Linked DNA regions of Homo sapiens: regions 2 and 3 are each linked to region 1. Evidence: fine-mapped expression QTL. A gene starts in region 1. Each other region holds a variant in brackets. All regions are shown on one strand. Distances are from middle to middle. Region 1 holds the start of H2BC21 (H2B clustered histone 21). Region 2 holds the start of H3C14 (H3 clustered histone 14). Region 3 holds the start of H2BC18 (H2B clustered histone 18).

Region 1 (10,308 bases):
AAATCTATTCTAGCCTCGGTCAAACCGGATTCCGAGGAGTGCAGGCGGGTGGGGGTGGGGCGGAGACACGCCGCTGCGGGCGACTTAAGTTTAGGGGCGAGAAAGGAGGCAGCCTTAGTAGTACATGTATTTTTAAAGGGAATTTGGCTGTGACGAGACAGAAAGGGCGGGACTTGGCAGTTTAGAGCTCAAGGGGATCATCGGCTTCAGAATCCCCTACTCTTTCGTGAGAGTAACTCTCCGTCTAAGGATGTCTTCTGCAGTTCCTTAGGGTCCATATTGGGATTTCCCGGCTGTAAACTAAACAAAGCAAAGCAAAACAAAACAAAAACCCACAGTGCCTCTCAGTAAAACAAAACCAGTATTTTGTTTGAAAGCCTGCTCTCTTTAAAGATCCTGGCATGCAAATAAGGGGCTTTAATGTGGCTCTCAGCGATTGGTAGATACTTACAAAATCCGTCATTTCCTTTCAGTGCAGGACGCAAACCAAGAGGCGGCTTTCTGCTTTTCTATTGGCTGTTAGATACGGCTCCGCTTTTAGCCAATCAAACGACTTCCCTTCACCCCTCCCGGTAGCTCTTATAAATTACATCAAATTGGTTATTCTTTCCACATTCTTCTCCTTGTAAAAGAAGCTGTAACTGCAATTTTAGCCGTAATGTCAGGACGCGGAAAGCAGGGAGGCAAGGCCCGCGCTAAGGCCAAGTCGCGCTCGTCCCGCGCTGGTCTCCAGTTCCCGGTGGGGCGAGTGCACCGCTTGCTGCGCAAAGGCAACTACGCGGAGCGGGTCGGGGCAGGCGCCCCGGTGTACCTGGCGGCGGTCCTCGAGTACCTGACCGCGGAAATTCTGGAGCTGGCGGGCAACGCGGCTCGGGACAACAAGAAGACGCGCATCATCCCTCGCCATCTGCAACTAGCCGTGAGGAATGACGAAGAGCTCAACAAGTTACTCGGGGGTGTCACCATTGCCCAGGGCGGCGTCTTGCCCAATATCCAGGCTGTCCTGTTGCCCAAGAAAACGGAGAGTCACAAGCCTGGCAAGAACAAGTAATTAAGAGGCTTGACACCATACTCATTCACCCCAAAGGCTCTTTTAAGAGCCACCAAAGTGTCAAATGAAGGGCTGATCACGAAATAGCGCATTAGCTCTTTTTTTGAAAACTTGGGTGGCTCTAAAAAGAGCCTTTGGTCTTGGTTTGTTTGTCTGCATTTATTTGCTTTTGGCTTTGTGGCTTTCGGTTTTCTTTGGTAACAGAACGGCCTGGATGTTAGGCAAAACGCCGCCCTGGGCGATGGTGACTTTGCCCAGCAGCTTGTTCAGTTCCTCGTCGTTGCGGATGGCCAGCTGGAGGTGACGAGGGATGATGCGCGTCTTCTTGTTGTCCCGAGCCGCGTTGCCCGCCAGCTCCAGGATCTCGGCGGTCAGGTACTCGAGGACCGCCGCCATGTAGACGGGCGCGCCGGCCCCCACCCGCTCCGCGTAGTTGCCTTTGCGCAGCAAGCGGTGCACTCGCCCTACCGGGAACTGGAGGCCAGCGCGGGACGAGCGCGACTTGGCCTTGGCGCGGGCCTTGCCTCCTTGTTTGCCACGACCAGACATGACTGAAATCAAGGTTAAACACAGACAACGCTCAGAACCTCGCAACAAAATAAGATTGAAAGAGAACCAAGAGGAAAGCCTTTATAAGCTTTCCTAGGGGTGGGGTCAAGAACGAGTTTTTCATTGGTCCTAATATGGCTTCAGAACCGGCCAATCAAGTCAAGAGTCGGTGTTGTTACGTACGCATTGCTGAAAACGCAAGGTCCGCACACGGACCAATGGAAATGAACGACTTTCGGAGCCCTAATTTGCATAAGGTGGTTATAAAAGAATCAGGCCCGCCCATTCTCTTACTTCTTTTCTTGGCTAAGCCGCGTTTGTACTGTGTCTTACCATGCCTGAACCGGCAAAATCCGCTCCGGCCCCTAAAAAGGGCTCCAAGAAAGCCGTCACCAAAGCCCAGAAGAAAGACGGCAAGAAGCGCAAGCGCAGCCGCAAAGAGAGCTACTCCATCTACGTGTACAAGGTGCTGAAGCAGGTCCACCCCGACACCGGCATCTCGTCCAAGGCCATGGGCATCATGAACTCCTTCGTCAACGACATCTTCGAGCGCATCGCGGGAGAGGCTTCCCGCCTGGCGCACTACAACAAGCGCTCCACCATCACATCCCGCGAGATCCAGACGGCCGTGCGCCTGCTGCTGCCCGGCGAGCTGGCCAAGCACGCCGTGTCCGAGGGCACCAAGGCGGTCACCAAGTACACCAGCTCCAAGTGAGTCCCTGCCGGGACCTGGCGCTCGCTCGCTCGAGTCGCCGGCTGCTTGACTCCAAAGGCTCTTTTCAGAGCCACCCACCTAATCACTAGAAAAGAGCTTGTTCACTTATTCCCTTAGTTTCTTTTCATAAAGTAAGTTATTTTAGTGTGAAGGTCATGGGAAATGGCATACGTAGCTTTTTAACTATTTGGAACTCGAGGTCCCCAGTGCGTCATTGGATTTGCTTTTGAATCTAGAGCGTGTCTTTACTCATTGTGCTGCTTAGCCTTCCCAGGAGTCGGTTCTCAATTAGGCTGTTGGGAATCCGCCTCTTTACCCGCCCCCACTCCCGCCCCACACGCGCCCTGGTGGCTCCTTGGGTCTGTTTCATTCTAAAACGAAGTGGCTGAGTTCGGCTGTCATTTAAGAGAACTCCAGGACACAATTCAGCCCGGGTTCCGCAAACACTGCGTGACAGCTCTGTATGACTGACGCTTGGCAGCAGCTTTTGTGTCCGGTCACCAGTTCTGCCGTGCGATGGGGCCTCCTGTGGATACCAGCCGTTCTGTGTATTTTGGACGAAGGCCGCGCAGCCGGGTCCCAGCCTTGTCCTGATTGGGCGACAAGAATATTCAAAATTCTGCGCCTTTTTCTAATTTGTAGATTTCAGTTTCCGTCGTTCACTTTGAGACTTTGAAATTCCTATTTCTCATTTTGTTGATAATTTCTGCATTTAATGGTCTGTGCTTTAAATGGTAACGCTACGGCCCCAGGTCACTGCGAGGCACTTACCATGTAGATACGGGCTCAAAAGTCACCTCTCAGAGACCTACGTCATCCACTCAGGAATTCGCGCCTCTCATACTTGCCTGTCTCATTTTATCTTCCTTCTAGCAGCTGTCTGAAATTGGTTCGTCTGTTTTCTTGTTTATGGTATTCTCAAGCCCTTGACAGACCGGCTAGTGTGGTTTTCCCGTGCATCTTCAGCCTGGCACATTATGGACACTTAAATACTACGTATTGATCTAATATTGTTGGGTTAATTTTTCCATCCCACCCTTTTCTTAATCGCTTCCGTGGATGGATGAAGGGTGCTGTTCATTTCCATTAGATGTATGTGAAGGCACAGTGAAAATGGAAATGTTCTTGGAGCTACTTCCTCAAAATGTATCCTTAGTCACCTCAGTGCAACAGCTGGGAGGGGGCCGTGTTAAGATTTTTTTTGCTACAAAGAGGAGGTGGCAATGGTAGATCCACCCTTATGCTTCTCAGTTTAGCATAACCTCTTATGGATTTTCATCAAATTCAGCGTGTTGGTCACTGGAAAGAGCCTTTTCCTTCTCCTTTTCTTACTCTCCCCTCATGGTGTTCCCCTCTTAAAGGAGAGGAGCTTTTAATTTACACTTACCACCTCATTTGCTTTTCTGGAGGCCATGCAATATAGGCGGGACTACAGAGTTAATCTCCTTTTTACAAATGAGGCCAAGAGAAGCCTCATTGGTTCACAGTCATGCAGCTCATACTGTCCACCCTTGTATTCTCAGATGCAGGACAATTGCATTTTAGTTTTATTTTGTGGAGGTGCAGAATATTTACTCTTTCTGTCCAACCCTTGATTCTGCCGAGGAAGACACTGATGGTTTGATGAGTGATTCAGCTGTTTTTGGCTAAGGGCTTTTGGAGCTGATGGCAGGGGTTTGATGAATCCAAATGAGCTCTAGACATTATCACAGACTGAATAGATCTTAACTGTCTCCTACATGTGTGTTTTCAAATGTGTATAGATGCTATTGTTATTAATAAAGTTACCAATTAATTTAAAGGCTTTGCTGGATTCTTTTATCTACAGTGTATTTTCTCAATGAATGAAATTAACAGATACAACTTCCACTGTGTCTGTAGAAAAGCGTGGGTGCCTCTGATCTGGGGGATGACTATTTATAAGCCACCAGCCAAACTGCTGCCCCAAAGGTGCACTGGGGCTGAAATAGTCTGTTACAAGGCCACTGTTAATGCTTAGTAATTGAAAAATATATGATCACAAATAGACAGCAGTACAAATAAGATGGAAGAAATAAAGTTCATAATAAAGTTAAGCTAACACCTACGGAGCACTTACTACGTGCCAGGTAGTGTCCTAGGCCCTTTATATGTATTGACTCATCTAATTCTCACTGGGACCTCAGGAAGTAGTACCGTTATTATCACCCATTTTACAGATAAGGAAACTGAGGCAAAGAGAAGCCTTTCTTCAGAAACTCTCCAGAGAATAAGCTCCTAGGTTAGCAGTTAAGGGACTTGAGAAACAGGGTCATTCTGAAAACCTGGACCCTTCCTGTGTTTTAGGGGGAAATATCTATGCTTTAGAATTGAAAAGAAATACCACTGGCTTTATTCTCTTCAGAGTGCACCCTGGATATAAATCCTGGGTGGTGGTGGCTGAGTACATTGAGGGTGGGATTAGGTGGCTGTGATCCTTCATCCCAGAGGCCATAGCTCAACTCAATTGAGTTTGTCCCCACAGTGGTGGGGCTCACCAGCTGGAATCCTTTCACTAACATGAGAGAGCCTTAGTTGCTGGTTTTGGGCTCCACCTGGGGATGATGTTCACTGGGAAGGATGTTATAGAGTGAGGAAGGGGGGGAAGAGGTGATAGATTTTGATATTTTAACTCTGGAGGGGAAGTAATTGGTGAGATTAATCCTCAAGAACCTCTTTGATCGTTTCTCCTGCTCAGACATCTTTAAACATTTGCTTATGTTGGGGTTAATAACAATAATTGTTAAAATAATGATTGCTTCCCCTTACTAAGCACTTAACTGTTTACCTTAAACTTACTTAGCAGTAAGCTAAGAGTTTACCTTACACTTACTTAGCAGGATGGTCTTGATCTCCTGACCTCGTGATCCACCCGCCTCCTAAAGTGCTGGGATTACAGGCGTGAGCCACTGCGCCCAGCCTACAGCCACTTTTTAAGATAGGTTCTGTTGGCCACACGCAGTGGCTCACACCTGTAATCCCAGCACTTTGAGAGGCCAAGGTGGGTGGATCATTTGAAGTCAGGAGTTCGAGACCAGTCTGCCCAACATGGTGAAACCCCACCTCTACTAAAACTACAAAAATTAGCTTGGCATGGTGGTGGGCACTTGTAGTCCCAGCTACTCGGGAGGCTGAGGCAGGAGAATCCCTAGAACCCGGGAGGTGGAGGCTGCCGCCACTGCACTCCAGCCTGGGCAACAGAGGAAGACTCTATCTCAAAAAAAAAAAAAAAAAAAGGAAAAAAAAATGAAGGACCAAAAGGACACTGTCATAGCTCTGTAATATGGCTTATCAATAATTCTGGAGTAGGCCTAAAGGGCAGCTCTGTTTGGGTTTCAGAAATTGACCCTTAAGTGAGAGACTGTCCCTGTAACCGAGGGGACTAGGTTTAATAATTCATTTAATATGTGTGATTGAAAATCTGTATCTACTAATTTTATAAATATTAAGTATCTATGCACATTATTAAATTCTATAAGAACGGCATTCTGGGACCAATTTTCTTCTCTCTGACTCCTAAGCATTGTTAGGTGTGATATCATTTGTTCTTTCATTCAAGAGTTTATTATCTGTGAAGATGGCAGGCAATCTGCTAGGTAGTGAGGACAGAAAATTGAACAGGCGTGGCTTCTGCCTTCCTGGACCTCTAGTGACTAGAAGAGAAGACATATTAATCCAGTGACTATGAGAAAGTGTGACAAGTATTACGACTGTAGAAGTATAGATATAGAGAGTATAATGGAGGGAGTCGTAACTTCACATTGGTGGGTGTAGGGAAGGCCTCCCTGAGGAAAGAACCTTTAGGATGACACTTGACAAGGATAGGAAGGGTGTACCAGGCAGTGGATGGCATGGGCAAAGGCCTGGAAAGAGTGGAAAAGATCATGGTCAGGTAGATAGGAAGAACTGCAGGAAGTCTAGTACAGGTGGTGGTTAGAGGGCAAGGAGGACAGTGCAGCATCAAGAGGTTACACAGGTAGACAGAGCCAGATCTTGCAGGATTAGGCCAGAATGTATAAACTGCCTTTAAAGAAACCAATGAGCTCCTAGGCTGACCTGACTATGGGAACAGAAAGGAGCTGTGTGGCACTAAAAACAGAAGAGTTAAAGTCTCAGAGACCACATGGTTTATGCCCATCAAGCACTTTCTGGAGCAGATGGACCCTGACCCTCAAAAGTGTGTGTTTGTTCCCTGCAACAGGGCTTCCCTTAAAGTGGAAATGGCTTTGTCAGGCCAACCAGATTGACACCAACTACCATGGTCACCTGCCTCTGTGTGCTGCAGGTGGCCTTCTCATTATAGTTTGCCTTTCTTTACAACTCTGCTTCCAGTAGAATGATGGGTGGATCAGGGGAACCGAATATGTGCTCTTTAGAGAGTTGTCTTCAGGATGTAGTTTATCATGAGCCTCTGTGCTCTATTTTCTGTAAATTGGTACTTAGAGGCTTGATTAGATTTAGGTTTAGTTTTTCACCCCATGACATGACTACTTCATAGGTGGTACTATTTCTTTTCTATCAGGAGACATGTAATGTCTAGCTGCTTCTTTTTTTGTGGTAACAGCAGTGATTGATTCTCAATGCTTAGATCAATTAATTCATTATCAATTGCAAAATAATGATATTCTGTCACTCTTCTTTCATATATTAGCTGGAATACTTCAGTAAAGAGGAATATTATTATTTTTTTTAGAGATAGGGTCTTGTTCTGTCACCTAGGCTGGAGTACAGTGGCCAGATCATAGCTCACTGGAACCTCAAACTCCTAGGCTCAACTGATCCTCCCACCTGAGCCTTCCCAGTAGCTAGAACTACAGGTAGGCATCACCACGTTGAGTTAATTTTTAAGTTTTTTGTAGAGATGGTATGGTACCAAGGCTGGTCTTGAACTCCTGGCCTCAAGTGATCCTCTCACTTCTTTTCAAATCGCTGGGAAAAATTATTATTTTTAATAGTAAATATCTGGAAACTACTTGTATATCTACTAGTATGTGGCAATAAAATGTTAGGGTCCCTTTTGGTGGAAATAAAAAAGGATATGTGTGTATTGATATGTATGCACCGATATGAAATAAAACACTTTCCGGGGATTTCACATAACAAAACTAATAATAGTGGCTACCCTTTTTTTTTTTTTTTTTTTTTTGAGATGGAGTCTCATTCTTGTTGCCCAGGCTGGAGTGCCATGGCACGATCTTGGCTCACTGCAACCTCCACCTCCCAGGTTCAAGTGATTCTCCTGCCTCAGCTTCCCGTGTAACTGGGATTACTGGTGCGTGCCTCCACGCCTGGCCAATTTTTTGTATTTTTAGTAGAGACAGGGTTTCACCATGTTGGCTAGGCTGGTCTCAAACTCCTGACCTCAGGTAATCCACCTGTCTCGGCCTCCCAAAGTGCTGGGATTACAGGCATGAGCCACTGTGCCTGACCAATAGTGGCTACTCTTTTTTTTTTTTTTTTTGAGATGGAGTCTTGCCCTGTTGCCCAGGCTGGAGTGCAGTGACACGATCGTGGCTCACTGCAACCTCCACCTCCCGGGTTCAAGTGATTCTTCTGCCTCAGCCTCCCAAGTAACCGGAACCATAGGCTCGTGCCACCATGCCCCGCTAATTTTTGTAGTTTTTAGCAGAGACGGGGTTTCACCATGTTGGCCAGGCTGATCTTGAACTCCTGACCTCGTGATCCACCTGCCTTGGCCTCCCAAAGTGCTGGGATTACAGGCGTGAGCCAACGCACCCGGCCAATAGTGGCTACTCTTAAGGAGAAGAATTTCCTTGGGCCAAAAGATTTTGCTTTTTCCTTTATATCTTTCAGTACTGTTTAAATTTATGATCAATGTTCACTTAAAAACAATGTCAGCAGAGGTTATGTGAACAGTGGGATTATTGGCCATTAAAAAAAAGCCTATAAGATTTTTTTTTGTTGAAAATAATGTATTTAAAAATACCTGTTCTACTGCCTGGCACTGAGTAGGCTCTCAATACATTGTAGTTAATTCTAAAAAATGGTTAAAAAAACTTCATCAATGCAAATAGCAATCAACTTAATAACAGTAGCAGCAACAGCAACAACAAAAACTCCAGAAGTCCCTAGGGTGGATGAGGTAACATATAGGTTTGGGATTGAGTCTCCACTATTCCTAACCTATTTTTTAAAAATCCCTCAAGATTATGAACACTTGCTTTGCAGGAGGCAGTCTCTGGAGTGATTTTCCTGACTAGTTAACTTCACTAATGTGTCCTCGGTCACAGGTTTGGTCATCAGACGGACTAAGAGAGCCAGTCAGGCTCTTTAAGGAGGCCTGGGTCATCGAGAACTGTGAAACTAGCTAAAAATCAGAGTTGATGGAACTGGCCTGGGAGAGTTGGTATAGGTTCTTGAGCAAGTCAAGAGCAATATTTTGGGCAGGTTATTATGACCTTTGTATCTTTATTCTGAAGAAATGTGCAGGATGCATAGAAGAAAGAGAATACAGGAAACCAGAAACCAGTGGGGAGGCTGCTGCAACCAGTAATGAGGTCTTAGACAAGTATAGAGACAGCAGGGAGAGAGAAGATAAACAAAAACCATGTTCTGAATGAAGGAGGCAAAAAACTGTTTTAGTTTTCTATTTATGTGTAAAAAATTACCCCAAATTAAGTGGCTTAGGACAATACTCCTTTAGCCTCTCATAGTTTCTGTAGGTCTGGGCATGGCATAGTGGGAGTATTTGATTAGAATCTCACAAGGGTAAAATCAAAGTGTCAACTGGGCTGCATTTTCATATGAAGCCTGGGGTCTTCCAAACTCATCCACGTTGTTGGCAGAATTCAGTTTCTTGCAGGTGTAGAATTGAGGCCCTCAGAGGCTGCCCTTCTCCACAGGCATGTCACAGCATGGATATTTGCTTCTAATGGCCAGCAGAAGAGCATCTCTGTTGCTTCCACTTTATCTAATTCAGGGAAGGCATTGACCCTCTTTTAAAAAGCTCACTAGGCCGAGTGCAGTGGCTCATGCCTGTAATCCCAGCACTTTGGGAGATCGTGGCAGGCAGATCACCTGAGGTTCGAGACCAGCCTGGCCAACATGGTGAAACCCCAGCTCTACTAAAAATATAAAAATTACCCGGGCATGGTGGCAGGTGCCTGTAATCCTAGCTACTCAGGAGGTTGAGGCAGGAGAATCACTTGAACCCAGGAGGTATAGGTTGCAGTGACCCTGGATTGCACCACTGTACTCCAGCCTGGGCAACAGAGTAAGACTCTGTCTCAAAAAAAAAAAAAAAAAAAAAGGCTTACCTAAGTCAGGGATTCCCTTTTTATTAACTCAAAGTCAACTGATGAAGGATCTTAACTACATCTGCAAAGTTTTCTTGATTAACAGCAAGTACAGGTTCTGCCCATACTCAAAGGGAGGGGATTTAAACAACGGGTACCAGGGGCCAGGACTCACGGGAGCCATCGCAGAATTTTGCCTACTACAGGAATATAGAGGAACTGTGTGTCTGAAGTCAGATACTTTTCTGTGACTTAAATTAATTTTAAAATAAAAGAGTAAAAAGTAAAAATTCCCAGTTACTGAAAGCCCACAGTGTGCAAAATACTATAGACATACCATTTCAAATCCTCAGAACAAATCCTGAAAGGTAAATGTTATGGTTTTTATCGTGGAGGATACTGAGGTTCAGACATGTCAAAGAACTTGGAATTTTCCTTCTAGTACATCATGTTGTATCAAAACAACCCCAAAAAAGTAAATATTACCCCCATTTTACAAAGAAAGAAATGGATATTTATGCAGTTTAAATAACTTGGCATTCCCTGATACACCATGGTGCTCCTGAATTTTACTAAAACATTTGTCTAAAATTTGCAAATAGCAAATAATCTGAGGATCTAGCAACATATTTTCCATGTCTGTTTAATAGAACCATAGAATATTAGTGCTGGAAGGAACCCAGAAATCATCTGGTCCAATTTCCCCATATTATGTTTTC
Region 2 (10,308 bases), 37 kb after region 1:
CCTGGATGTTAGGCAAGACGCCGCCCTGGGCGATGGTGACTTTGCCCAGCAGCTTGTTCAGTTCCTCGTCGTTGCGGATGGCCAGCTGGAGGTGACGAGGGATGATGCGCGTCTTCTTGTTGTCCCGAGCCGCGTTGCCCGCCAGCTCCAGGATCTCGGCGGTCAGATACTCGAGGACCGCAGCCATGTAGACGGGCGCGCCGGCCCCCACTCGCTCCGCGTAGTTGCCTTTGCGCAGCAAGCGATGCACTCGCCCTACCGGGAACTGAAGGCCAGCGCGGGACGAGCGCGACTTGGCCTTGGCGCGGGCCTTGCCTCCTTGCTTGCCACGACCAGACATGACAGCGATAGTAGTCACCGAGAGAAACTCCTGCCTGGCGATCGGGAAAGTCGCCGAAAACGCCGCTGCTTCACCTTTTTATAGACAGAACGGCGATTGTCCACGGAGCACTTTGATTGGCTCAAGCAAATTTTGTCCCGATAGCCAATAGGATAGCTCAGCCAGAATCCACTCATTTACATAATCTCGTCTCCCTCGCATTGCGCGCCGCGGAAAACTCGCGAACCATAACGCAGCGTCATGCGCACAGCCTCTGTAAGTACACAGTCGTTTCCGGTAGACCCCGAGCCTACCGCTCTGCTTGCGTTCTCGGGGGTCGGTGTCGGTCTTGGGTCTGGCCATGCCTGAGCCTGCAAAGTTCGCGCCGGCTCCCAAGAAGGGCTCCAAGAAAGCCGTCACCAAAGCCCAGAAGAAAGACGGCAAGAAGCGCAAGCGCAGCCGCAAGGAGAGCTACTCCATCTACGTGTACAAGGTGCTGAAGCGGGTCCACCCCGACACCGGCATCTGGTGCAAGGCCATGGGCATCATGAACTCCTTCCTCAACGACATCTTCGAGCGCATCGCGGGAGAGGCGTCCCGCCTGGCGCACTACAACAAGCGCTCCACCATCACGTCCCGGAGATCCAGACGGCCGTGCGCCTGCTGCTGCCCGGCGAGCTGGCCAAGCACGCCGTGTCCGAGGGCACCAAGGCGGTCACCAAGTACGCCAGCTCCAAGTGAGTCCCTGCCGGGACCTGGCGCTCGCTCGCTCCCTCCCTCCCTCCCTCCGCGGGTCGCCGGCTGCTTTGTCTCCAAAGGCTCTTTTCAGGGCCATTTAACCACCTCAGTTAAAGAATCTTTCTTGTGTTGTCAGTCCCAGTTGATGTTTTTGGCTTCACGTCTGGTTAACTTTAGGAGAGCACACAACACCAAGCACAGATAACTATTTTCTTTTCACATAGGCATTGCTATAAGTAAGCTTACATAGATTGATAGTGGTATCTTACTATGGCATAGATAGGTTGGGGCTTGCCTTAGAGGGCTGCTCTTGAACTGTCTTTGGCCTGGTTACGTACCCGTGAATATGTGCCCAGGAGATTGTTTCCTGTTGAGAAACGCAGTGTTAATTTTGATAAGTTTATGTAAGATCAAATTGTGTATATGAACAAAGGTTGGGTCCGCTCTTCAGTGGTAAAATGAAGGTAGAGATTAAATGCATTGTATGCTCTCAGATGTGTACTTAAAAGGGAATAGCTCAACTTTTATATATGGTATCGAGAAACCTGAGGTTTTTATATCATTGGTTCACAAACACGTGCCTACACCACCACTCATGTGAAAATTCCTTAAGGAGGTAGATGGAAGTTCGATTTTGATAACCAGGAGTTAACACCGATAACCTTCTGCGCTTTCTAGTTGAGATACCCTAAAATCTACCCAATACCATTAAATGGTTTTTTTCCCCAAGAGTTATCACTCGGAAAAGCTTGTCCAGTTTAAGGGTTTGTTCCATACAATAGCAACAAAATATACGATTTCTGAAGCCAGAGTTTGGGATCCCTGAAGAGGAGAAGGACCACCAATTTGCAAGGGAGGTTGATTAGGTTTGTTTTCTGCTTTGGGAACACTGGACTTGGAATCACACAGCCTCATTAACCTCAAAATATTATACTGATTGCTCTGGGGATCGTAAATCCTAGGCTGGCCACAATAGAAGCGAGGAAAGCAATTAGGAGGCTGTTGCAGTGTTGTGGGCTGGAACAGTGATTAAGACTTAAAGTCTCTCCAGACCAGCAGCATCAGCATTACTTGAAGTTACTAAAAATGAAAATTCCCAGGTTCCATTATTTGTGTTAAGCTTTCTGGGTGATGGTGATATATGCTAAAGTGTGAAAAACAACGGATAAATGACATGCTGGAGTGCAATGGTGGTAATGGAAACAAATGTTGGATTTTATCTTTGAGGTAGAATTAATAGGTGTGGCTGAGGAACAGGATTTAGCTAACAGTGAAACCCCTAGATTTTTGGCTTGAGCAACTGTGTAGATAGTGGTACTATTAGGATAGAACACTGAGAGAAGATATTCGTTGGGACACTGAAGGGAGATCCAGAGTTCCGACTGAAATTTGAGAAGCTCTTTGCTATTCAAGTGGATATGTGCAGTTGACAGTTTGAGAGATGCATCTAGGGTTCAGTAAAGACAACACAAGCCTGTCTTTAGGGTCTACCTGTGAACTGTGAACACAGCAATGAGAATGATGGACATCACCTTTAAGTATTTTTCTAGACTTTATTACTCATGTGTTTGTCATGAGGTGTAACTTAGTAGTTCATAGTCCTATAATGTATGTTATTGACTAGGTAGCATTTATTTTTCTAATTGTTTCTGTTATAGTGCTGCCACATGTGTTTCCCAGAAACGCATTTTACCCACAGTTCTTAGGGTTGGCCTGATTAGTTTAATTGCTGTCTGAACCTGCTTCTTACTGTGATTAGTTCAGGAATCTAGATCAAACTCATTGGCATTTAACATTTCAGGAAGTGAACTGAGTAACAACTAACTCAGCAGGGGAGTGTAGTATGCTATTATCTTTTGGGAAAGCAGCTTATTTGCTTTCAAGAGGCAGCAGGAGGATGGACTGTCTTTAGGTATGAAGGCAAGAATGATTATAGACAATATGCAGAGGAGGACACAGTGTGGGAGAATCAGGGAACTGAGCCACTCATGGAGTTCAGCCAACCTTGGATCCCTGCTGCACCTTTGGACTTCCAGTTAAGCCAATTTGTCTGACATATTTACTTATACCAGTTTGAATCTTGAAATATTTCAGGAATAATAATTTCCTAGATAAAAGGAAAGACCTTTCATGAAAGGTCTCAAGTCAAATAGGGTCAATTAGGACAGAGTTGCTCCAATTACATATTTGGAACAGATGTCCAAATGTTAATACTTGACTAAGGCTAAAGACTAATATTACCATCACAGGAAAAATGTCCAGGGTTTTTTTTCAGATGTGAAATTTTATTTAAAAATTTTAAATAAACTAAATCAAAAAATTTTAGTAGTTGTACTAATTTCCTGGGGCTGTCAAAGTACCACAAACTGTATGGCGTAAAACAACACAAAGTTATTCTTTCATGGTTTTAGAGGCTAGAAGTTTGAAATCAACGTGTTGGTAGGGCCATGCTCTCTCCAAACCCACTAGGGGAAGACTCCTGTCTTTCAGTGTCTGGTAGCCCCACTTGTTCTTTGGTTTCTGGCAGCATAACTGTAATCTCTACCTCAGTTTTTTCATGTATGTCTCCATGTTTTTTTACTTTCTTTCTTGAGATGGAGTTTCACTCTTGTTGCCCAGGCTGGAGTGCAGTGGCATGATCTTGGCTTACTGCAACCTCTGTGCCCCGGGTTCAAGCAATTTTCCTGCCTCAGCCTCCCGAGTAGCTGGGATTACAGGCATGCGTCAGCACGCCCGGCTGATTTTGTATTTTTGGTAGAGATGGAGTTTCATCATGTTAGTCAGGCTGGCCTCGAACTGACCTCAGGTGATCCACCTGCCTTGGCCTCCCAAAGTGCTGGGATTACAGATGTGAGCCACTGCACCCGGCTGTCTCCATGTCTTCTTATAAGGGTATCAGTCATACTGGATTAGGGCCCACCCTAAAGACCTCATTTTAACTTGATTACCTCTGTAAAGACCCTGTTTCCAAAGAAGGCAAAATTCTAAGCAACTAGGGGTTAGACTTCAACATATCTTTCGGGGGGACACAACTCAACCCATAACAGTAGTCAATGGCTGTGGCAGGCTAAATGTGGCTCCCAAATATGTCCATATCCTAATCCCTACAGCCTGTGAATATTACCTTATATAGCCAAGAGGATTTTGCAGATGTGATTCTGAGATTGAGAGATTATGCCAGATTATCCAGGTAGGCCCCAAATGTAATCACCACAGTCCTTATAGGAGAGGCAAGAAAGTCAAGTGTAGAAGGAGGCGATAGAAGGAGAGAGGGATTTGAAGATTAATAGGCTGCTTGCTTTGAAGACAGAGGGAAGGGACCATAAACCAGAAATAAACCTCTAGAAGCTGGAAAAGGCATGGAAATAGACCCTCCCTTAAGGTCTCTGGAGGGAGTGCAGCCTTGATTTCTACCGAGTAAAATTGATTTTGTACTTCAGACCTCCAAAACTGTAAGAGAATGACTGTTGTTTTAAAACCATTGAGTTTGTAGTAATTTGTTGCAGCAGCCACAAGAAACTAATACAACATCTATATAGAATTTTTTCAATAATTGGAGAAATTTGAATATGGATTGCATATTAATATTACTGAATCAGCATTAAATTTGTTAGGTGTAATAATGTGATTGTAGCTATTTAGGAGAATATCCTATTTTTAAGAGACATGCCACCATATTTAGGGAGAAGTGCCAACATATTTGCAGTTTATTTTCAAATGGTTCAGAGGCTGTCTGTGTACATGAGAAGACAAAGATAAGGCAAATGCAGCAAAATTGTAATAATTGGTGAATCCAGGTGAAGGGACTATGGCTGGTCTTTGTACTTTTTTTTCCAACTTTTCTGTAGGTTTAAAATTTTCAAAATAAAAAAATGGGAAATACTTTAAAAATTGTAATCAAAGACATTAGTACAGAAACTTTCATAATGTATTTTATTTTTACAGTAAAATTAATTTATGTAAATTGATAGAATTTTACTAATTTCACTCCCAAGTTACATTAAAAGGCTTACATATGTTTGATAATAGCATATGTAAACTAGAACTCTGAATGATATCCATTGGTCATAATACGTACTATGTAGCGGTAATGGTGACTTTTGTGATTGCACAAGTCTAGAGATGCCCCAAATGACATTGACTTAGACATCTGGTTATTCTAAGGCTGAAACTGAAGTTGAATAGAAGGTTTTAGTCAAATACTGAGATGAAAACTGAGGCAGTCCTGGCGGGGGGGAGTGAGTGTGTGTGTATATATACACACATAGACATCATGCTTCTAAACATTTACAGAAAGAAAGGGTAGATTATCTACAAAAAAATAAGAATCAGACTGATATGAGATCTTACAAACCTAACCCCCTTCTCTTTCCTAAACTCCAGATTCTCATATTTCTGACTTCCTATTTGATATTTACACTTCGATATTTACCAGGAGTCTTCAACATTTTGTTCAAAACAGTACTCTTGGTTTTCTTCCTCCAAGACTACTCCTTACTCATATCAGCAAATAGCAGCTCTTTTCAAGTGCTCAGTGTAAAAACCTACAATTAATCCTTGATTTCTCTTTCAGTCAGCCTATACTAAATCAATTTCATTTAAAATATCTCGGCTACTACTCTGCATCTCCACTGCTACCATCGGCCTCTCCAGTCACATTCTCCAAGAGCACTCTATCTCATTTAAAAGACAAAATCTCTGCAGTGGCCTGTGATGCTCCTTAATGGCCTACATAATCCAGCCCTCAAGCACCTCCGTGATCTCTGTAAAACTTTCCCTTGGTCACTGTGCTTCAGCCACATTAACCAGCTTGCATATTTCTCACATTCACCAAGCTTGTTCCTGCCTTGGGGCCTTTGTACTTACCATGTTCTGTTCTGAGAATACTCTGCCTCAAGATATCCTACAACTATCTTACTGTATTCAGCTCTCTGCTCAAGTATTAACTGATGAAACCTGTCATCCCTACTCCACTCCATGTTCTGCTTTACTTAACAGCAATTGCACATATGGCCCCCTGAATAATATACATTTAGTCACTTATTTTTACTTATCTGCTAATTAAAATGTAGACTTTTTCTATTCTGTTTACTGCTGTATTCCCAGCATGTTTTATCCGAATGTGCAGTGGTTTCTTTTCTTCTCCCTTATCGTGGGAAGTGATGTGCACAAATACACATAATGGAGCCTGAATGTCATATTGCTTTCATACCTGTGTGAATTTTGGTAAGAAAGGAAAAGTAGCGATTGACAGGTAATATAATTACATTAAGTCACTCTCATAGTTAGCTGTTTATTGCTTTCCTGCTCTTATTCTCAGTCCCCAGGACCAAATGTTGACCACTACCTTCCCCCACATATAATTAGGTTATTTACCGAACGCCATGCAGGTGGCTGTTAAAAGGAAGATATATACTTACCTTATAAACTCAACTTTTCCCTGTTGTCTTTCTGTCTCACCCCTACCTCCATGCTTTAAATTAACTTTTCAGGCTTAGGCCTTATCTCTCAGTAGAGCCATATAAGGTATGTGTAAAAGCAGGAAAATGTTTCCTGGGGATGAAGCTTTGAAAAGCTTTTTTTTTTTTTTCTTTTGGCAATAAAATAAGGTAGATTCAGCACAATACCTAATAACTAAAAAATCTGTTTTTAATTGGGTGGGGCAGACAGCAAGTGTGTCATCCTGGAAGATACTATTTGGGATTTTATGTAGGTACATAAGAGAAAAAAGTGAACAAAAGCAAGGGGCTACCAGGACGCCGCAGTATGCTTAACATGTATTTTCTAAGTTTGTATTATGCCTTTATCTTGGTACTTTTATCTTCTGTTCTCACTTGATCTTTTTGAAATGTATTTTAAATCCTAATAAAAATATATAAAGTCTGGAATTAATAAAGGATTAAATGAAACTTTTGTATATCTCACTGAAATTCTCAGAAAAAAGGGGGGTGTGGGGAGGGGGAATTGCCTGGGGTAGTGAGTGAAAATTGTGACCAGGTTCTTACTAAGGAATATGGCAACTGCATAATCAAATGTCAGTGGTTACCAAACTTATGAATCACCTGGTGTTGTGTCATAGATTGTCTATCCTTGCCTCTCGCCCCCAGTGATTTAGATCAGTGGAACTATGTGGGGTTTAAGAAATATACAATATATATTTGTATATATTTGTGTGTCTCGAAAGCTTCAGGGTTAAATAAGTTTTAACTGTTTAGGAAACACT[A/G]TTGTTTTAGGTATCCAGTCTCAAAGACGAAGGCCTTTAAAACTTACTTAATTTTTCATTACATTTCTTGCCCAGAAAATTGTAAAATACCCAACGATAACAATGGGGAATTGTCTATCAGCACTTGACTAAAAAGCTTTACTATCCATGACAGCAGCCTTTGCATTACTCAATTCTGATGGCATTTAACGTCTTGAAACCCAGAAATAAATACCTATAGACTCACAGTACCTGAAAGGAATACCAAATTGAGACAAGAGAGCTATATAAACCAAAAATTGCTTCAACCACAGAATGGAGGTCTACAGGTGCGGAAGGAAAGTTTATATGGTGAGGCTTGGTCGCAAAACTATTAGGAATATTTTCAGGTTACTACACAATTTTGCGAGCTCAATATGCAGTTAACACTTTTTCCCTTGACTCTCCTGAGCAGATTTACATTGACCGCACCCGTAGCATATCGTCTCACTTTGGAAAAGGCAAATTATGTGCACATGACCCTGTCACTACAAGGTAGTTCTCGACCAAGCTACATCTTATAGCTTTATCTTATATTCCTCTCCCATCATCTGCAGGAAAAGGGATAGGTGCTGAGGGAAAACCCCTAAGTAGAACTCACAGTAAGCAGTGGGAAAACAGCTTATTTCACTAACGGGGTTAAGTGGCCCTGAAAAGAGCCTTTGGAGACAAAGCAGCCGGCGACCCGCGGAGGGAGGGAGGGAGGGAGCGAGCGAGCGCCAGGTCCCGGCAGGGACTCACTTGGAGCTGGCGTACTTGGTGACCGCCTTGGTGCCCTCGGACACGGCGTGCTTGGCCAGCTCGCCGGGCAGCAGCAGGCGCACGGCCGTCTGGATCTCCGGGACGTGATGGTGGAGCGCTTGTTGTAGTGCGCCAGGCGGGACGCCTCTCCCGCGATGCGCTCGAAGATGTCGTTGAGGAAGGAGTTCATGATGCCCATGGCCTTGCACCAGATGCCGGTGTCGGGGTGGACCCGCTTCAGCACCTTGTACACGTAGATGGAGTAGCTCTCCTTGCGGCTGCGCTTGCGCTTCTTGCCGTCTTTCTTCTGGGCTTTGGTGACGGCTTTCTTGGAGCCCTTCTTGGGAGCCGGCGCGAACTTTGCAGGCTCAGGCATGGCCAGACCCAAGACCGACACCGACCCCCGAGAACGCAAGCAGAGCGGTAGGCTCGGGGTCTACCGGAAACGACTGTGTACTTACAGAGGCTGTGCGCATGACGCTGCGTTATGGTTCGCGAGTTTTCCGCGGCGCGCAATGCGAGGGAGACGAGATTATGTAAATGAGTGGATTCTGGCTGAGCTATCCTATTGGCTATCGGGACAAAATTTGCTTGAGCCAATCAAAGTGCTCCGTGGACAATCGCCGTTCTGTCTATAAAAAGGTGAAGCAGCGGCGTTTTCGGCGACTTTCCCGATCGCCAGGCAGGAGTTTCTCTCGGTGACTACTATCGCTGTCATGTCTGGTCGTGGCAAGCAAGGAGGCAAGGCCCGCGCCAAGGCCAAGTCGCGCTCGTCCCGCGCTGGCCTTCAGTTCCCGGTAGGGCGAGTGCATCGCTTGCTGCGCAAAGGCAACTACGCGGAGCGAGTGGGGGCCGGCGCGCCCGTCTACATGGCTGCGGTCCTCGAGTATCTGACCGCCGAGATCCTGGAGCTGGCGGGCAACGCGGCTCGGGACAACAAGAAGACGCGCATCATCCCTCGTCACCTCCAGCTGGCCATCCGCAACGACGAGGAACTGAACAAGCTGCTGGGCAAAGTCACCATCGCCCAGGGCGGCGTCTTGCCTAACATCCAGGCCGTACTGCTCCCTAAGAAGACGGAGAGTCACCACAAGGCAAAGGGCAAGTGAGGCTGACGTCCGGCCCAAGTGGGCCCAGCCCGGCCCGCGTCTCGAAGGGGCACCTGTGAACTCAAAAGGCTCTTTTCAGAGCCACCCACGTTTTCAAATAAAAGAGTTGTTAATGCTGGCCACTCTCAGTCCAGCGTTCCTCAGTAGTGAATAGCGAACCTGGAGCTGACGGGACGGGACGGGACGGGACGGGACGGGACGGGGCGGGGCGGGGCGGGGTGTGTGTGTGTGCGCGCCGTCTTCCATCTGGAGCACGTAACTGCCTTGGCTCTTCGATGAGTGGGTCCCCAGTCCTAGGACTTCCCAGGGCAGGTGCAGGCACCAAACGTCCTGGGCGCCGCCACGGTCCGCTCCACACAGTCACAAACACCAGCGCCGCGGGCAGTACCCAACGCGCTGAAGTGTTGCGCGCGGAGCGCGCGCTTCCCTAGTGGTTTCCGCAGGCTATGGCCGGACACTTAGACCTAGTCTGGCACCAGCGGGACGTGCTCCTCGTCCCCACCCCCGATGGGGAGGGCCCTGAGCGGGTAGTGCTCGCTAGTGTGGCGGAGCTGGGTCTTGGCTTCACTGAGCTGACTTAAGTCTTAGTTTCTGTTTTGTTTTCCAAAGCGCCCTGGCGGCGGAGAGTAAGGGCCTCGGAGGCGGAATCTTGCGTCCTGGGGGCGGGCACCTCTCCCACCCAAAAGGCACCCGACAGGCGAAAAACGATCCGCCAAGTAGCAACTGGGGGCGGGGGGCAAATGGAAGAATGAGGTTCCACGCGGGAGCTGTAGGGCGCAGCAAGAAAGGGGGGGTATTGCGGGCAGTGTGTTCTAAGGAAGCGAAGGGCGGAAAGGGAACAATCTGACAAAGCTGCAATGGAAAATGACTTTCACCCTGAAGGAAAGGGGAAAAACAAGCTTGCGAAACTTCGCCAACTGGTAAGTAGAAAGTGAGGCGGGGTGGGCGGGATTAGGGAGGAATCTGCCCAAGCCAACCGGTGACTTTAGGACGGGTGACGTCACAGCCAATGGACAGCCAGCGCGGGATTTTCAATTATTGTTCCGCCCAATCGGGAAAAGACTGTGCTTATAAAGACGGCTGCGGCGGGGCTAGGAGCTCGTTTTTCTCCCCGCCGCTGCGCTGGTAAGCCTGTGTTTTGGTTCGCTATGGCCCGTACT
Region 3 (10,308 bases), 71 kb after region 1:
TGGAGTTGAAATCTGGTTTGGCACCGACTGTGTGACTATGAGAAAGTTTCTTAACCGCTCTGTGATTCCTCCATCTCCCAATCTGTAAATGGACATACTTACACTACCTACTTGACAGGGTTTTGTGAGGATAAAATGAGTTAATACATGTAAAGTGTTTAAAACATTCTTGGCACCAAGAAAAAGTATGTAAGTGTTAGAAAAAAATATGCATATATAGGCCGGGCGTGGTGGCTCACGCCTGTAATCCTAGCACTTTGTGAGGCCTAGGCGGGTGGATTGCCTGAGCTCAGGAGTTCGAGACCAGCCTGGGCAACACAGTGAAACCTTGTCTCTACTAAAATCCAAAAAATTAGCCGGGCATGGCAGTGTGCACTTGTAACACCCCAGCGTTGGCAACAGATATCTTCTTCTCCCTTGGCTGCTTCAGGGTAGAGAAGAAACATGCTTGCCCCTTTCTGACTCTGTCATAACTCTTGCAGAATGTATCACATTATTTTACATCTTTCTTTTTTTTTTTTTTTTTTTGGAGGCACAGTCTCGTACTGTCACCCAGGCTGGAGTGCCGTGGCGCGATCTGGGTTCACTTGAAGCTCCGCCTCCCAGGTTAATGCCATTCTCCTGCCTCAGCCTCCCGATTAGCTGGGACTACAGGCGCCCTCCACCACGCCTGGCTAATTTTTTTTAAAAAAATATTTTCAGTGGAGACGGGGTTTCACCGTGTTAGCCAGGATCGTCTCTATCTTCTGACCTCGTGATCTGCCCGCCTAGGCCTCCCAAAGAGCTGGGATTACAGGCGTGAGCCACCGCGCCCGGGCTATTTTACATCTCTTTACATCTTAGTACTTCGTCCTGGCTGTTTGTTCCTTACTGGCAGTGATTTTTTTGGGGGGGCGGGGTGCGGGGGACGGATTATCCCTGGGTGGTCCAGGCTGGAGTGCAGTGGAGCGATGTCAGCTTACTGCAACCTCTGCCTCCGGGGTTCAAATGATCTTGTCTCAGCCTCTGGAGTAGCTGGGATTATAGGCGTGGTCCACCCCCCCACCCCTGTTTAACATATAATCAAGAAATAACCATAAAAATGGGCAACCAGCAGCCCTCAGGGCTGTTCTCTCTATGGAGTAGCCATTCTTTTATTCCTCTACTTTCCTAGTAAACTTGTTTTCACTTTATGGACTGGCCCTGAATTCCTTCTTGCTGGATATCCAAGAACCCTCTCTAGGGGTCTGGATCGGGACCCCTTTCCTGTAACACATATTCCAGTGGAATACGTTACATAATAAAGGCAGAAATTGCAAAAAATTTGAGCTTACAGTACAGGTAGTAAGTATTAGGGACCAGTAGAAAGGAGAAAGGTGCCAAGTTTTATCAAATGAGCAAGATATTTAAGGAATGAGTTTATCTCATAATGGGGTAAGGAAAAAAGCTGAGACTCTCATGGCTTCTTCAACTTGGTCCAGGGCTGCAGACCATTCAAGAGAAATTCAAATCAGGCATAGGGCCTCATCAACCCACAAACCAATTCAGCTGGTCTCAGCTTATGATACTTATAACCCTGAGGATACTTGAAGCCAAAAATGAAACATAAATTATCTTATTGGAACATCTATGTTAACTTAGTCCGTTACTTTTGTATTAAAAGTAAACACATGTACATACAAAACATTATGTGCGTAATAATTCATTTATTAATATTTTCTTTTGCCTTCTTATTTCTTGTTAGGTAAATTTTAATCTTCTCTTGTCTATTCCCCCGTGCTACCTAATGAAATTTCTGTTCTCAGTATTCAAGCTGCACAGCCTTATAATTTCTGCTGAAGGACACTTCAAAAATTTTAGGAGGAATATTCCGTCTTTGTTACAACTGAAGAAAAGCAGAGCTTCTTTTGCACCATAAAGTTGCTTCTGATATAGTGGTGGATTGAGACCTTTCACAGAAATGTCACTCTAGTGTCCAATGTGGGGACTAGGTGAAATTGAACTAACAATTGATCTGAATTCTGTTATTAAAGATGACTTTTAAGGCAACTATACATCTGATTGTTTTATTCTGAGAAATGATACCTATAGCCATTAAAGTCTGATTGAATGCCATTTTCTTATTTAAATGAACACATCCTACATTATGGTCAAGACTGCATACATCATAGAGAAAGTATATTGCAAAGAAATGTGATGCTTGGGTGGGCTGCTTTGGGCTATCATCCAGATTCCATGGGGTAGTTTTCCCTTCTAATGGGAATAGTTGGGTGTAGATGTTTGAGAAATACTAGATGATGTGATTGCTTGATGGGAAAACGCTTTTGTGCTTTAAACTGTGTTGGCTGGGTGCGTGGGGCTCATGCCTGCAACCCAAGCACTTTGGGAGGCCGAGGAGGGTGGATCACCTGAGGTCAGGAGTTCGAGACCAGCCTGACCAATATGGTGAAACCGTGTCTCTACTAAAAATACAAATAAATAAATAAATTAGCTGGGGGTGGTGGCTTGCGCCTATAGTCCCAGCTGCTCAGGAGGCTGAGACAGGAGAATTGCTTGAACACAGGAGGCAGAGGCTGCAGTGAGCAGAGATCCTACCACTGCACTCCAGCCTGGGTGACAGAGTGAGACTCCATCTCAAATGAAAAAAAAAAAAAAAAGGTATCCTCTAAGCCTAATGAAATAGAAAGTTTCATCATTACAGTTTCATTCTTTTGCTTTAGAATATTACACAGGCTTTGTTACTTACCCAGGACAAGCCATAATTTCTCTGAGACTCAGTTTTCTTATCTGTAAAGTGAGAAGAGTAACATCTATTTCACAGAGTAGGGATTAAATGATAAAGTGTATGTAGAAGAACTTTAAACACTGAGTAGTGCCTGCTGTCTGTAAGGCATTATTACAAAACTACCACAGAGAGGGATAACATTTGTTCACATCAGTTACACTTTTGTACATTTTAGATCTCTCGAGAGGAGGATGCTTCTGCCCATGAGAGACTCTTGAAGATATTAATTAAGCTCACAGATTTCTACTTTGTGTTTAGTGTTCAGGAAGTCCCCTTGAAATCACTTTTACTTTACTTTGACTTCAGTAGGAAGATAGTTCATAATGACACCATCAAAGTAAGTTTTAAGCGTTTCGGGCCTGCTTTTCTCAGGTTTGAGTTTTTATAGTTTGTAATGATTTTTTTAGTAAAATAAGGATATGATTAAAAGTTTTATATTAACTACTACAACTTTTAAGTATCAGTTGCTTCTACATAACCACTATGATATTTACTGTTCTGAACAATACATACTTCAAAGCACATGAAATTGAAAAAGCAAAGCATCTTTACTCTCTTCATAGAGAACAGAAAAAAAACTAAACTTTTAAGCATTATAAAATACTTTATTGAATAAAATGTTAGCAAGTCAGCAATTGATGAATAATTTGCTTTGAAACTTGAACTTGTAATCTGGCTAATAAGCACTAATTTACAAACTATTCTACATTGTAAAGGAGAAATGAATTTCTGGTGTTGTCCTTCTTTGATTTAGAAGCTTAACATCTGCAGGACCTAATTGGCCATTGATGTGAGGTTGAGGAAGAAGGAACCACATCGCAGGGAGAAAAGACTAAAGGAAGGCAGAGGCTCTAATATCAGGTCAATATAGGTCAGCACACTACCCACATGAAATGGCTTTGGCTGGGTTCCAAGGTCAAGTAAATAAGATCAATTTTTTCATTCCTTCAATTACATATTTTTTTGCTAAGCTTCGGTCATTCATGGTATACAATGCATCTAACTTGCTGAGCAAAATGCCAGACATGAAATAAATGTTAGCTATGGTAGAAGAGCTACAGTAACAGGTAACCTGAAACAGGCTGATAGCTCATAGAAGGGCATGCTTGAATTCGGGGAAAAAAAAAATCTCTGTTAAAATGGGATGCAAAACACTTTATACATTGCTTTTACAAAAGTTAGACTAATTTAAAGGAAAGTCTTCAAAAACAATCCGTGATCGATAAAATTACAGAAAAAAATCAGGAAAGGGGGAAATAATAAGGGAAGAAAGATTAGCAGAACAATCTTCCGCCCCAGTAAAGAGGATTGAATTTTAACCAATGAGATCACAAGTTTGAAAATTTCCTTTTCAGGCCCAATCAAGAGGAGACTATGTCTATAAATATGACTGCCTAGACCCTCTCCTATCAATGAGACAGCATGGCCCGTACTAAGCAGACTGCCCGCAAGTCGACCGGCGGCAAGGCCCCGAGGAAGCAGCTGGCTACCAAAGCGGCCCGCAAGAGCGCGCCGGCCACGGGCGGGGTGAAGAAGCCGCACCGCTACCGGCCCGGCACCGTGGCTCTGCGGGAGATCCGGCGCTACCAGAAGTCTACGGAGCTGCTGATCCGCAAGCTGCCCTTCCAGCGGCTGGTACGCGAGATCGCGCAGGACTTTAAGACGGACCTGCGCTTCCAGAGCTCGGCCGTGATGGCGCTGCAGGAGGCCAGCGAGGCCTACCTGGTGGGGCTGTTCGAAGACACGAACCTGTGCGCCATCCATGCCAAGCGCGTGACCATCATGCCCAAGGACATCCAGTTGGCCCGCCGCATCCGCGGGGAGCGGGCCTAAGGCATATTTTTAAGTGGTCGATCTAAAGGCTCTTTTCAGAGCCACTGCCGTTTTCATCAAGAGCAGCTGTACC[G/A]GCTCTCCATCTGATGTGCGTCTGCCTTGCGCAGCGGTCAGGGGCCAGGGGCACTCGTGGTGGGTGACGTTACAGAACCCAAAGCCCAGCCGTGAGTTGGCCGGCAGTAGAGAAAGCCGCAGAGGCATGGTCCTTGTGGTTCCGGCCGAGCGTTTTCACGCTGGTTTAAGGCTAGAGGTCCGGCTCCCAATTCTGTGGGTAAAGTTTTGCATGGGGGCAAGAGACTATGGGGAGTTTCTAGATGTGGAAGATCCTGAGTGTAAGGGTGGGGCGAGTCCCTTAAAAATTATAAACCCGTTTCCTGGTTTATTTAGGAACTATAAGCTTAATTAAAGCTCAGCATCTTCCTCATTGCATACTACAGGCGGTGTCCAAGCCAGAATAGTAATTTAAGCGGGCGGGAGTAAATATCTGGCGATTTTTAAAAATGGGTGAGGTAGTATTTCAAGGAAGAGAAAAAAATTTCCACAAAGTATAGAATAAAAATGCAAAAACGAGGCAAGAGAGTTAACTTGTCTAGCTGGCGTTAAGATTTCTTCCGTATGCAAGTCTAATGGAAAGTGAAAACCAAGAAAAAACCCCAAGCCGTAGAAACTATCGCTTCACCTAGCTTAAAACTGGTTAGTGTGAAATGGACCATTCTGATAGGATAACAAGACTTTTGTTACAGTGACCATTAAGGAAGCAAGACTAGAATCTATTATTTACATAGACTCCACCCCCTCTGACGACACCGTTGTAAGTTAACCAATGAAAGCGCAGCACTTTGCGAGTCTTCATTTGCATACGGGCTCTATAAGTAGCGCATAACCAGCCCGTTTTGCGGTAGTTCGGATTACTTCTTTAAGTCTCTTTTCTCTTTTTTCGCGCAAAAATGCCGGATCCAGCGAAATCCGCTCCTGCTCCCAAGAAGGGCTCCAAAAAGGCTGTTACGAAAGTGCAGAAGAAGGACGGCAAGAAGCGCAAGCGCAGCCGCAAGGAGAGCTACTCCGTTTACGTGTACAAGGTGCTGAAGCAGGTCCACCCCGACACCGGCATCTCGTCCAAGGCCATGGGCATCATGAACTCCTTCGTCAACGACATCTTCGAGCGCATCGCGGGAGAGGCGTCCCGCCTGGCGCACTACAACAAGCGCTCCACCATCACATCCCGCGAGATCCAGACGGCCGTGCGCCTGCTGCTGCCCGGCGAGCTGGCCAAGCACGCCGTGTCCGAGGGCACCAAGGCGGTCACCAAGTACACCAGCTCGAAGTAAGAGTGTGCAAGGGACGCAATAGATCAACCACCTAACCCCAAAGGCTCTTTTCAGAGCCACTTCAGTAATCGAGAAAGCAGCTGTAAACACTTGTCAGAGCGTTTGATAGCTTTTGGTCAGGTAGGGAGTGTTACCATGGTCACGGATGCATTCGGGTTTAGGACTAAGGAGTTTCCTGTAGTCCTGTAATGAGTTGGCCCTCAGTCATCCCCGTCCAGTCTTACTGAGTTGCTTGTTATCTGTGCTACGAGATTCGAAAGGTTTGACTCGTTCTGGGATATTTGGGAGGGATGGAGGGAAGGAGGCGGGGGGTGGTTCTACACCCCTTCGGCCTTTAACCTGTATCTTTAAAGTCGTTTTCCTTTTTGTTTCTGAAAGTAATGAACGAGATGAGATTTCCCATACAGATGAGAAACCCTCGGTCCGACCTCTTACTATTTCTTAGTGTTTTAATCTGTTTTCCTTACCATATACCTACAGGCGTCTGTCACAAACTTTGTCTAATATAGCCATGTGCTTTCGTCCCTTAGCCTTTTTGCAAGTCCTGACTTAGCCATCCTCCCCTAACTTCCATTCCAGTGACTTCAAACAGGGAGATATATTGCCACCACCCCACCCCCTGTGGAGTATTTGGCAATATCTGTAGATGTTTTGGGTTGTCAGGTGTGTGTGTGTTGCGGGGGAGGTGCTAGAAGTATCCAATGGGCAGAGGCCAGGAGTGCTAAGCATAAGGCACAGGACAGTCCTCTGGGGGGACAAAGAGCTACCTGGCCTGTAATGTCGATCTTTGGTGATTGAGAGACCCCAGCGCCCAAAGACATCCCTAACCTTCAGGATTTAATCCTCTTCAGTCAAACGTTTCCTTAACCCTATCAGCCCATGTTTTTCTTTTCTTGGTGAAAGCTGAGCACTTCATAGGCTGTTTACAGGTCCTTCTCCACAGGAAAATACTTCCTCCAGGACAAGAACCCTGTCTTGGTTCCAAACTTTCCCAATTATAAGAGTCACCTTTGCGCTTGTTAAACCTGCTTCCAGGTGCTTCTCCTGAGGTTTCCTGATTCAGCTAGACTGGAGGTGGGACCTGACGAGGTGGTTGGTTTTTAGTGTTCTCAGGAGTGTGGATGTTTTAATAGGTGTTGGGTCCTCATGTTAATCGACCTGTGGGTGTGTCACAGTCTTTGTGTCACAGATGTCCTGAGAAAGGAAACAATTTGAGGATGAGTGGAGGGGAATTTGTGGTGTAGAGAAGGCCACAGTTAATATGTGGGGTGAATTTCTGAAGACCTCTCAGTTCAAAACTTGAATAACTCAAGACTCATCCTGACAAAAGCCAGTGGATGTTTCTTTTGCCAAATAAAATATACCCTTGGTGCAACTGGAAAATCTTAGCTTATAATTAACTTGACAGCCTTTGAAATTAAGCCATTCTTGATAAATCTTGGGGGAATTAACAACTTTGTGCTTAAAATGAATTTTACTAATTTTTATGATGTTGAAATTCAAATTTACACCCAATTAAAAGATATAAAATGCGGTATACATGATTTTTTTTTTCCACTAGAAAATAAAGATTCCCAGTTTAGTCATCTTTTTCTGATCACCAGACAAGAGGTCAGGGAAAGATAACTGAGAATCCAAAATTTCCGTTGAAAGTAAAGAAATCATATATAGCACATTCTCTGGTAGGAAAGGTTACTCAGTAAGTGAGACGGCCGAGGTGGTCTATTTTCTATACAGTTGGGCCATAAGAGAATTTATCCAATTTCCTCCTAGCTTAGGGTCCTGAAGTCAGGAGTTCCTTTTTTCTTAAGGATTAGGGACCATGTTTTTCAGGGCCTTTTGAAGTTGTTAAAGCATTGTCAACTGGCTCAACTACACAAATGCCATCATTTATTATCCACTGACCAAAAGATTAACTTCCAAATCCTCATCCTGACACTAAAGGCCACCTATTATCTAGCCAAAACTTACCTTCTTCACTTGTTCTCCCCAGTCCTCCAGCTTAGCCTAAATGTTCTACTGTCATGTAAAGCATTTTAACTTTGTCTTCTGTGCTTTTGTTACATTGTTCTGAGTTTTAGTACTCAGTCCTCTGGACTACTTGAAGCTTTTTATCAGTCTGTCAGTTCTTTTAAACTCTTGCTCAAATCTCACTCTGAGAAGCTTTTTCATCTCATTGTAGTTCACAGGGAAGTCTTTCTCTTAAGGCCTCATTCCTTGCATAACGAATAATTGTGTAGCTTTTTAAACTGTAGGCTTATTCCTCAATTTCTTTTTCTTGTTTTTACATTTTCTTGTCTGTCTTCTGCTAGAGACATATGCTTCTCGGTATTTATTCCACAAAGGCTATCCCAATGCCTACTATAAAATAGCTTCTCAATGAAAGTTTGTTGACTGGTTGCCAGTCAACAGAACACTAGAAAATTGATCTGAGAGTGGTGGGTTCTAGTAAATACTCTAGTAAATATTTTTCTCTACTTTTTTTCTAACTTTTTTTCTTACTCCTTTACTATGGATACTCTTTTAATTATTGCCCTTCATAATTATTGGCCCAGTTGAAACAACTGTTATAGATTCAAAAATCCTCAGAGTGGTAAAGTACTACACTTGGCATCTTCCCTTGAGCCGATGTATCTATGTAGCTAAAATGATGAGATTAGAGTGGAGCTTTCTCACCCTGGTTTGAGGTGCTGCAGAAATGGTCTGCTTTTCTAGTGCCTTGAAAAAGGATGAGAAGAGAGGTGCATTCCAGAAGACAAAAGGTGTGTAGTATCAGGATAAGGGGCTTTAAATATCAGATCCAGAGAACACTGCACATGTAGAAATGGGCTTGGCCTGGGTCAGGGCATTGAGATTGGTTACATAATCTTTTCAAGGATTGGTGAATGAGTTGGAGTATGTGTAGAAACCTACAAAGATGACAGTTTAATCTCATGTCATAATTTTTAGACAAATAATGTATTTTAAAACTGGGTGCAGTTCCTAAAGCTGTTCTAAAAGTCAATGCAACTGAATTTGGAATGTAAGCATAGGACAACAGATGGGAAATAAGTACATGACCTCTGTGGGATAAAGTGAGAGTTACCAAAGAATGTCAGTGTTTAACTAGGAACAAGCTTGTTTTGGAGAATTACTAGATATTATGGAAAATTTTTTTCTTTTCTACATTTGATTAACTATAGCTGAACTATAGCAGATCATATGACTTGGCAAAAATAGAAAACTTGATAAAAATCTTCTAGGCCCCACAATGTCAACATGAACAAACTTTTGAAAAGTAAAAGTAGACCGTGTTTTCTCAGTATGTATTATCAAATATATGTTGAACATAAAATTTTTGCCCCTCAGCCAGGTTGTAATATTTTCCTTTAGTTTATCTCTTTAATAATTTTTTATGTTAATCCATTTTATTTTGAAAAAATAATGAGCTAGAGGATACAAAGATGTAAATGAATCTAAAAGAGAGAATTAAACTGGCATAAAGATAAATATAATTCAAGCAAGATATGTTATTCCCAAAAGAAGAGAAAGAAGGAAATGTTATGTGAATGGAGAGTGAAAGGTTGCCTCTGGTTGGAGAGTTCAGGAAAATTCTGTGAGAACTTACATGGTGCCAGCTACTGTGCTAAGTGATGGAGACACAAAGGTATCCATTCCTCAAGTCCATAAGGTTCAACTGGAGTTTTCTGTGTGACGAGTATATCATGTATCCTCTGAAATTATTTTTTAAGTTTTAGTTTTACCCAGTTTTTACTGTAACCTCTTTCAACTTTTTAATTGTCTGATTTGGGTAGATGGAATTCTCATTCCATTTTTATTCTGTGATTAGAGGTTATTAATTCCTCACCCCTCATCCAGGTTGTAACATTTCCATTTACTTTAAAATATTGCTTAAGAAAATTTGTATTTTACTTCAATTGAGATTTTATTTTTTAATATTATTATATTGAACAGCTTTGGCTATCCCACCCTCCTACCTGCAGAGTGCAAAACAATTTATGCACATCATACTCAGTTTACAGCATCAGAACACTCTTGGAGCATTGCTCACCATGGTCCTAGCTTGATTTTCTTGGGGTGTGATTATTCTTTCTTTTCTCTCTTTCTCTCTCTCTCTCTCTTTCTTTCTTCTTTCTTTCGAGATGGAATCTTGCTCTGTCACCTAGGCTGGAGTGCAGTGGCACAATCTCGGCTCACTGCATCCTTTGCCTCTCGGGTTCAAGCGATTCTCCTGCCTCAGCCCCCCGAGTAGCTGGGATTACAGATGCCAGCCATCATGCCCAGCTAATTTTGTATTTTTGTAGAAATGGGGTTTCACCATGTTGGCCAGGCTGGTCTCGAACTCCCAACCTCAGGTGATCTGCCTGCCTCGGCCTCCCAAAG

Evidence for each region. PIP is the estimated chance that this variant, and not a neighbour inherited with it, causes the effect.
Region 2: its variant is fine-mapped to the expression of H2BC21 in whole blood (INTERVAL, PIP 0.99).
Region 3: its variant is fine-mapped to the expression of H2BC21 in whole blood (TOPMed, PIP above 0.99).

The regions. Positions count from the first base shown.
Region 1 is chr1:149,878,267-149,888,574 of GRCh38, reverse strand. H2BC21 (H2B clustered histone 21) reads left to right here and starts at 1,893. Exons shown (of 1, transcript NM_003528.3): 1 at 1,893-4,116. The coding sequence starts at 1,935. The coding sequence ends at 2,315. H2AC20 (H2A clustered histone 20) reads right to left here and starts at 1,657. Exons shown (of 1, transcript NM_003517.3): 1 at 1,164-1,657. The coding sequence starts at 1,600. The coding sequence ends at 1,211. H2AC21 (H2A clustered histone 21) reads left to right here and starts at 610. Exons shown (of 1, transcript NM_175065.3): 1 at 610-1,106. The coding sequence starts at 659. The coding sequence ends at 1,051. RefSeq lists enhancers at 1-316, 540-829, 850-989, 1,400-1,459, 1,590-1,659 and 5 more.
Region 2 is chr1:149,841,146-149,851,453 of GRCh38, reverse strand. It overlaps H3C14 (H3 clustered histone 14), which reads left to right and starts at 10,246. Exons shown (of 1, transcript NM_021059.3): 1 at 10,246-10,308. The coding sequence starts at 10,297. H2AC18 (H2A clustered histone 18) reads left to right here and starts at 8,704. Exons shown (of 1, transcript NM_003516.3): 1 at 8,704-9,236. The coding sequence starts at 8,756. The coding sequence ends at 9,148. It overlaps H2AC19 (H2A clustered histone 19), which reads right to left and starts at 393. Exons shown (of 1, transcript NM_001040874.1): 1 at 1-393. The coding sequence starts at 340. It also overlaps the pseudogene H2BC19P, a transcript of H4C15 not described here and the pseudogene H2BC20P. RefSeq lists enhancers at 1-330, 5,366-6,129. The variant A/G (reference allele first, on the strand shown) is at 7,281.
Region 3 is chr1:149,807,560-149,817,867 of GRCh38, reverse strand. H2BC18 (H2B clustered histone 18) reads left to right here and starts at 5,498. Exons shown (of 1, transcript NM_001024599.5): 1 at 5,498-5,989. The coding sequence starts at 5,545. The coding sequence ends at 5,925. It overlaps H3C13 (H3 clustered histone 13), which reads left to right and starts at 4,175. Exons shown (of 1, transcript NM_001123375.3): 1 at 4,175-4,643. The coding sequence starts at 4,187. The coding sequence ends at 4,597. RefSeq lists enhancers at 4,246-4,535, 5,759-5,838. The variant G/A (reference allele first, on the strand shown) is at 4,671.